Linked DNA regions of Homo sapiens: region 2 is linked to region 1. Evidence: fine-mapped expression QTL. A gene starts in region 1. The other region holds a variant in brackets. All regions are shown on one strand. Distances are from middle to middle. Region 1 holds the start of WIF1 (Wnt inhibitory factor 1). Region 2 holds the start of LINC02231 (long intergenic non-protein coding RNA 2231).

Region 1 (4,394 bases):
TGCGCACGAGAGAGCTATTGGCACTTTCTGCTTTTCCTACAGTTAACCAGTTACCAAACCCTTTCAGATGGAAGGGTGCAGTTCAAACTGCCTTTTATTGATTCTTACGAACCCATAAAGGTATAGGTTAAAAAATGTCTTTTCAAAAATATAGAATTAATTGGCCACTTAGTTAATGACCATCTGATGAGCGGTCAGCCATAAGTAAACAGATTCAGCTGAAAAGGAGAAAATGAAAGGCCATTCGTTGGTTTATTACTGATTTCACAATATTCCCAACTTAATTGTTTATGAAGTATCTATGAAGAGGGACTTGTAGGGAGAAAAGGAATAATCTCCCTATAGAGCAATGGAAACCTCGATGAACCTATCTGCAAAATGGGGGTATTAACAATAGATGACTTTCCTGTTATAAACCTCAGTGAATCCAAAACCTCAATTTTTTTTAACCACATAGCAATGGAAGTGTTGAAGGTTCTAGATTTGATCTATTTCAGAAGAAGAAGAAAAAGAGAACAGACTTGAAGGGAAAAAGACAGCTAAAAAGGTCATGTCTATACCACAACAGGTAATTAGAGGGAAACAAAGTGGTTTCTCAATTCAAAATAGTTATTTTTTATAAAGTGTTTTCGGTATCACATTCTTCTTGAAAATAATCATTTAAGGAACTTTAGAATAAAAGACCGAAAAATGTGGTTTTAATTATAATTATAATGATTTTCATAGTAGACACATTCTACCAACTAATAAGCTGAAGAATGCATTGCTTACCATTTGTCCTCTAGAGTAAATTCTCCAATTGTACAAAAGAAATTAAATTTACATAAGCATTTTATTCTTTCTTTCTAAAATTAGAAGCCATAAAAATGTACAAAAGGTAACATATAAAAGATGCTAATGTGCTAAGGAATAAAAGGAATGCTTCTTCATAAAAAATAGATTCCAGTTTTCTTTTCCATATGAAAGCATTTAAAATGGTAACTTGAAAACATAGGCTGCAATATTTTATAACGTTCTTACATGACACCTTTTGGGTCTAACTTCTACCAGAAATATGCAACATTCACGTTCCAGTGAATAACATTCAACATACTGACTTTTTAAAAGTGCACAATGTCAAAAATACTTACAAACTTTAAAATTTGTTGTAAAGTATGAAGAATGTCACAAGTGATTAGAAACTACTATGCAAAAAGAGTCCTTTAAGTATGTTAAATTTTAATGTCAATGATCACAGAAACACAGTGATGTTGGTATTGGAGGTCTTTATATTTCCAGCAGCCTCAGGACACTGAGTCTTATCAAAATAATGGGCTTAGGCACAAGGCTTGTTCTTTTCTTTTGAAGATCATTAATTGATATGGCAACTTGAAATAAATGGAAATTAATTCTTTATTTGCTTTGGCAATCAGATGAGAAATTTCTCTTAATAACTGTAAAATGTACCAGGCTACACACTATACAGTACTATTTCCACCTGCCATAAGGCAGTGGAAATATTAAAGGGTAATTTTCTCAGAACTTACCTGCCCTGCAGCTTGCCAGGTAAAATTCATGGAATGGATATTGACAGGAATAGCTGGCATTCTCTGTTGTGCTTTTCTGAAATCATGTGTAAAAGGTGCCATTTTCCCCTCTGAAACAATCAGGATATCTTCTTCAAATCCTGGTTTTTAAAATAATAAAACGATCAAACCAGGTAGACTTGAAATCATCTAAATCAGAAGTTTCAAGCAAAAAGAAAACCAAAGAATTAGTGTGGGTCATTTCTGTTCACAAGCATCTGCCTTCAGTACCATCAACGCTACTAAGATTAATTTTTCTCTGTGGATGATGAGAATGATGCCAACAGACCCATGCTTTCAGGGAAAAGGGATGGACATGGAGTTAACCGACGCAAAAAAATGCCGGGTGCACCTAAAAACGCAGGGCTATAAAAATTAACAACAGCATGATCAGAACACTAGATCAGCTTTGGTTTCTTAAAAGAGAAGTTTATAAGCTTTCAGATGGAAAATATCTAATTAAAAGAGGGGAACACTCTTTTGTGGAAATTAAGTTTTAAAACACAAGAAACGCAGGTATCCCTCTTTCTTGAAGAGTGGAGAGAGGAGGACATAGGCAGGGGAAGGCGCTGGAGGCGGGGGCCTTACCTATGAGTACTCTTGCCTGGTGAGCATCGATCCATAGGTACAGGCTCTCCTCCTGCGGCGGCCCGGCCTCCGCCCGCAGTGCCAGCAGGCACAGGAGGATGCTCCAGAGCCAGAGCGCGGCGGCAGGGAAGGCGCTCCTCCGGGCCATGCTGCTCAGGACCTCCTCGCTGCCGGGAAAACTCCTCGTGCCGCACCTACGCAACCTGGCGCCGTCAGATACTCTGCTGCGCTGCAGCTCCCTCAGCCAGGGCTGTTCCCGTTTAGACGGCTGGGCGCGTCGCCTCCCGGCCTGGGTGCCAAGGAGCCTGCGAGAGCAGGAGGAGGGGGCAGGCAGGACGCGGGAGGAGGAGGGGGGGACCAGCGGGCGCGAGTCGCGCAAGAAGATGGGGCGCGGGCGGGAGTGGGGGCGGCAGAGACGTAAGACTGGCAAAGCTGGCGAGGCCAGCAGTCAGCGGGGCAAATAGAGCGAGAACAGAAGAGCGGGAAGGGCTGGCGCGAGCGAGGTGCGAGCGAGGAGTGGGGCCCGCGAGGCCTGGGCGGCCGCCACTTGGGGGCGCTGTGGGGCCCCCCCGGGGGCGGGGCCGCGAGGGACCCCCGAGGCTGCATTCACAGTGCGGTGCGCCCAGTGGAGCGCCCGCGAAGTGGGCGTGTAGGGCTGGCGGACCCGGAGAAGGGCACTCAGAGACCCCTGGGACATCACTCGCCACCTCCTCGGGCCAAGGGAGGCTTCGGGGGAGGGAAATGGGGAGAGCAGACAACGCTGGGCTTGACTGAGTGCTGATGATGGTGATGGTGATGGTGATGATGATGATGATGATGATGATGAGGTGATGACTCCTGTTCCTCCTCCGGCGCTCACTGAAGGCGCAAATTGCCCTTCGTCTCCCTTTCAGCCAGTAGGATTCCTCTCTCCGCCAACCCTATGCGCTCCGTTCTGCGATAGGCTGGCACTTTGCGCGCTCCCAAGCAGTTAAAACTCGAGGCTCGACTGTCCGATGGTGCCGATGGCAGGCGCTGGCCTTGGCTCGAGGCGCAGGGCGTCCAGCTGGTACTTGCCCGACACCCAGCATTTGGGGATTCCCGTCTGTCTCCCTGATAACCCGGCAGTGCCCGGAAGAGTGCCCTGGGCCCTGGACGATAGCTGTACCTGACCCTCCGGGGTAGGGCTCCTCTAACATCGTGGATATCTTCACGTTTGCTGATATTTTTTAAAAGTTGCTGAATTCGGCCGGGCGCGATGGCTCACGCCTGTAATCCCTGCACTTTGGGAGGCCAAGGCGGGCGGATCACCTGAGGTCAGGAGTTCGAGACCAGCTTGGCCAGCGTGGTGAAACCCCGTCTCTACTAAAAATGCAAAAATTAGCTGGGCATGGTGGCGGGGGCCTGTAGTCCTAGCTACCCGGGAGGCTGAGGCAGGAGAATCACTTGAACCGGGAGGCGGAGGTTGCATTAAGCCAAGATCGTGGCACTGCACTCCAGCCTGGGCGATAGAGCGAGACTCCGTCTCAAAAAATATATAAATAAATAAATAAAATAATTTTTTAAAAGTTGCCGAATTCACAGGTGCGTGGGGGCAAAACCAAGGCTCTGGCCTCGTCTGTGAGAAGCATGCTTGGCCGGCAGTGGGCTGCAGCATAACCTATCCACCTGGCCCAGCAGAAAGAACTGATTTTTGCCTCCTGCCTAATTCCTCGGATGCACAAAGAAAACGGAAGCAAAAGGGTTTTGTTTTGTTTTGTTTTTAATTAAAAAACTTAGCCTTCGGACTCATAAAAGGTTCATTTACTTGTGTTTGTTCTTTAGTACCCGAAGCTGTGACAAATGCCTCAAGGATCAAATGTCTGGGGCTGGGCGTGGTGTTTCAATCAGTCCTTTATAGAGTAGCAGATGCCTCAAGAGGGAAAAACAAACAGAAACAACAGAAGAGATGGTGGACATGTGCAGGCATCAAGTTAAATCAGTGTTAGGTTCTGAGAATATAGATTTCCAATGAGGAAATATTTGCAGCTATACAACCAACCAATAGAAAAAAAAAAAAGGAAAAAAGGAATTAGACAAGAAGTCTATGACTGATTTGAACTTGCAGTGTCTTAATTTTTAAAGTACTTTTATTTTAAGTGCTTACTTAATCCTCACAACTCTTAAGTAGGTACTACTATTATTCTTATTTTACTGACGAGGAAAGAGGGCTCAAAAAGTCCAGTAAGTTGACTGTGGATATCCAGCTGGTAAATGAGAGTA
Region 2 (4,394 bases), 130 kb before region 1:
GATGGCTTTAGCTAAGTCTTATGCTGTAGTGAAAAAACAGAGCAATTGTTGGGTTTATGAAGATAAGCTAGTTTCTACTGAGGAAAGATTCCAGTGGCATTCCTGGGGGCTCAGTCTTGGTACTAGCAGGGTACTGGTAGTATGGAATTTGAAAGTAATCCATAAAATGAGAAAAATCTTGGGTTTGACCAACCAGTCCCCACAGAGGTTCAGGTGAGTAGAAGTCATCTTTTGAAAACACTTAATAAAACATCATGCAGTTTTGGATCCTGTTTCCTTAGACACTGCCACCAAATACATAAAGGAAATTTCTCAGAGGAAAGAAACATATGACATGTTCATAGGAGCAGCAAACCATTGGTTTGCAGGTAGGCTTGGCTTTTCCAAGGTGTTCTAACCTTTATGCTCTTCTAATGGTTCTCCAGATTACTATGACTTGTGTTAACAAGATAATGACAACATTGGATACCTCTTTAAATCAGCAAACTGCAGTTCTTAATCATTATCACCTCCTGAACAAAAACCATGACCAACGGTACTCAAATGCTTTTGAGCTGCCTGTAAGGGAGGAGACCACCCCTCATATTGTCTTATGCCCAATTTCTGCCTCCAAATAAAGAAGAAGTAAAAACTAAAAGGCAGAAACGAAATCCACAAGCAGACAGCCCGGTGCCACACCCTGGGCCTGGTAGTTAAAGATCGATGCCTGACCTAATCAGTTATGTTATCTATAGATTACAGATATCGTATAGGAAAGCACTGTGAAAATCCCTGTCCTGTTTTGTTCCGATCTAATTACCAGTGCATGCAACCCCCAGTCATGTACCCCTGGCTTGCTCAATCGATCACAACCCTCTCAAGTGGACCCCCTTAGAGTTGTGAGCCCTTAAAAGGGGCAGGAATTGCTCACTCAGGGAGCTCAGCTCTTGAGACAGGAGTCTTGCCAATGCTCCCGGCCGAATAAACTGCTTCCTTCTTTAACTCGGTGTCTGAGGGGTTTTGTCTGCATCTTGTCCTGCTACACCTATATTGCCTGAACTTTGATTTGGGTCAAATTGATTTGGTTGGCAGAGGCTCCTGTTAGAGAGTACACCTCAGGCTTTTGGAATTTTTGGTGTTGTCCTTCTGATAGTCATCATAGTAGCTCCCCTGGTGTACCATATCCTCTCAAGTCTTAAATATTTGTATGCAGCCATCCACTGAGTGTTGAGTGGTCTCACTTTGACTTGATCATCAAGAACATAAAGAATTATTCAACTGGTGTGATGTCATGACTTGTGAATTTCATGCTGAGACCAAATAAGTTTGTTTATGATGGTGACAGAGAGTGGTATCAATGCCCCAGGTTTTGAGAGGTGGCATTGTTAAACTAAATTTGGGGGGATTGTTAAACTAAATTTGACCTGAGAATGCCTCCATACCTGAGTCCTTACTAATGAAATGCAATGTAACTTAGTACTCACACTAACTGAAAACCTGGCTTAGGCATATACTTTTGTCACAAATGAGTCACAGCCAATCACAGCAGCTGAGCTTCAGTCAGTCACAGGCAGCCAACTCAAAACACCATGTTCACATAAAGCAAATGCTGAATAAGGCAAACACCAGCTGTAATCAATGGAGCTCTGTACCTCACTTCCATCTTCTGTTCATAAATGCTATCTGACCACATTGCAGGCCAAAGTTTTTCTGAACTTGTTCTAGTTTTGAGGGCTGCCCAATTCGTGAATTGTTCTTTGTTCAATTAGACCCTGTTAAATTTAATTTGTCTGAAGTTTTCCTTTTAGCAACTGAAGCATGCAGCAG[G/C]TCTGACATCATTAGGCAATTGCAATTCTCTTTCCTGCAGAGCTAAGACTCTGCCTCCTGCCTGATTCTCAAAGCAGAGCTCCAGGGAGCAGCAACACTAATTGTACAGGGCTGGCACACTAGAGAAAACCGATTTGCTACCCCAGCTTTAGGGCTTTTTCTAACTTCCCTCCAAAAGGAAATATACTAGTGCCCTGCTCACTCCCTGAGGTACTGTCTTCGCTAAGGTATGATGCTTGTTCATGGATTAATGTGTTTTCCCTCCAGGTATATGTTTCTATTTAAAATGCAGAGAGTGTTTTAATGTGGAGGAATGACCCTAATGATAGAAGTTTTAATAAGTCAAATGAGCGGAAAGGCAAGACAATATAACAAAAAGAGCACCAGTTTTGGCATAGCAGGCACTCAATAAATGTAAGTTCCACTTCTTTCCTTGTGCTGAGTGTCTCCTAATTACCTAGCACTATGGTAAATGCCCAAGAAACTCTAAGATATAAACTTTTGGTTTAAGAAGGCTTTATTTGTACTGATGAGATGATATGAGAAAATACTTTCTTTTTCTCTAAATACTATTACATTGTAGGCAGCAGACTGGCCAATACAATTAATTAAACTTTAGAAAGAAAAGATAAAGCCAGTCATCTGCTATGTAGTCTATGCAGTCCCAAAACAGCAGCTGAGTTTTTTTCACGGAACTCTTCTGGGTATTGGAAGGCAGACTAAATACTTTACTTGCTGCCCAGCAACACGAAGATGGAAAACACATCTTTTGATTAATTAAAAGCAAAAGGTTGGAACTACTTACCTTTCCATTCTTTAATTAACAAAGCCCACAGGCCACATGAGGAAGTAATAACACTCATTATGTTGTGATGAAGGACTGTGATGATGAGTTAAGTCAGATGGGACTCCAGGCACGATTCCCTTCAAGGCTTCCCCAAGACGTGCCCCGAATGTAGACAGATCCTTACTTGTTGAAGAACTGTATCTCACCAGTGCTGGCATATGCTTCTTCAGAGAGTGCATTCCCTTTTGCAAGGGAAAGAAAAGTCCTTAAAACAAAAGGTTATATTTTAATTAAGCCTAGGCATCCTTTCTGCAATTTCCTTTGTTGAAAGAATACCTCCTTTGATTTGTATCTGTTGGTGTTAGTCTTTGGAATAAAAAGAGATTGATCCCTTCCAGGCAGAACTGTCCCAACTGAATGATCAAAAGCCTTGCTAGCTGACATACAAACCAACAAATTATTTTCTTTTTCTCCCTTAAATCTCCCAGGAAGCACCTTTTGAAAGATAGTCTTCATTCCCCAGGCTTTGCTCACCATCCTTCATGCCAGTGGGTGGTCTCAAGGAATTTGAGGAAATGGCAAACACTCATTCTACCTGCAGGTGGAAGCCTGACCTCCTGCCTTTCAACTTCCTCCAGAATCCTTGGAGGGTTTTTTCTTTTCTTGTCACCAAGGCACCGCTGAAATCTGTTAGTCAAATAGCTTTCTACCCATGAGGAAAGTGAGCTTTGATATGTATTTGCTTCTCATTCAGCTATAGCAGCACCAGTTAAGATGCTGCCACCACATGAATGTAAACGAAAAATAAAACAGCAGGCTCAGTTTTCATTCTAAAGTCCACTCTCTGATGGGAATAAGAAATAACTCAATAGCATTAGTATGGAACATTGGGTGTCAGGATTTTTGCCTTCATTTCCCATCTTTTTTTTGGAAATTAAACTCAGTACCTCTATTATCTTTAAGAATCAGGGATAGTGATGATATTTTTCCCCCAAGAAAGAAAATAAGGGCCTATAAAAATGCTCTTTTTAATGCTCTCAAGGGGAAATGCTGAATTGAGAAGCAATTGGGTTTTCTAGAAGTCCAACAAACGTACTTTTTAAAGTGGTTCTCTGATGGAATACCTATAGAAAAACCTTGCTTCTTCATGTGAAGGTTTGCATTCACCAAGTCTGATTGTGTAATAGAGGTTACCCTTTTTAAATTAAATGAATTCTAAACAAAGTTTTACTTACATTTCCATTTTTGCTTTTTAAGAATGGAGTGATTGAGTCTTTTTAGGAAATGTATACACTTTGTGGCTAACTTTGCATGCCACATTGCAGCATGCTGTAAGTTTTATAGCTCTTGAAATACCATGTTAGCAGTAGGAATGCTGATGCTTCTATGATTACAGTGGTCCAACTGCAATGCTATAATCTCTGTCACTGAAAAATCTCATGCTGCTAAAACCTTGAAGACGATCTGAATTGTAGATGGTTTTAAAACTAGCTGTAGGCAATCCCATTACTGGGCATATACCCAAAGGAATATAAATCATTCTATTATAGAGATACATGCACACATATGTTCATTGCAGCATTATTCACAATAGCAAAGACATGGAATCAACCCAAATGCCCATCAATGATAGACTGGATAAAGAAAATGGGGTACATATACACCATGGAATACTAAGCAGGCATAAAAGGAATGAGATCATGTTGTTTGCAGGGACATGGATGGAGCTGGAAGCCACTATCCTCAGCAAACTCACAAAGGAACAGAAAACCAAATACTATGTGTTGTCATTTATAAGTGG

The links. PIP is the estimated chance that this variant, and not a neighbour inherited with it, causes the effect. A credible set is the group of variants that fine-mapping cannot tell apart.
Region 2: its variant is the best candidate, but not a certain one, in a credible set for the expression of WIF1 in cerebral cortex (GTEx, PIP 0.66).

The regions. Positions count from the first base shown.
Region 1 is chr12:65,118,891-65,123,284 of GRCh38, forward strand. WIF1 (Wnt inhibitory factor 1) reads right to left here and starts at 2,415. Exons shown (of 10, transcript NM_007191.5): 1 at 2,154-2,415; 2 at 1,527-1,666. The coding sequence starts at 2,301. RefSeq lists a silencer at 2,576-2,735.
Region 2 is chr12:64,989,666-64,994,059 of GRCh38, forward strand. LINC02231 (long intergenic non-protein coding RNA 2231) reads right to left here and starts at 2,626. Exons shown (of 4, transcript NR_146276.1): 1 at 2,612-2,626. LOC107984522 (a long non-coding RNA gene) reads left to right here. Exons shown (of 2, transcript XR_001749177.2): 2 at 1-981. RefSeq lists an enhancer at 2,963-3,489. The variant G/C (reference allele first, on the strand shown) is at 1,807.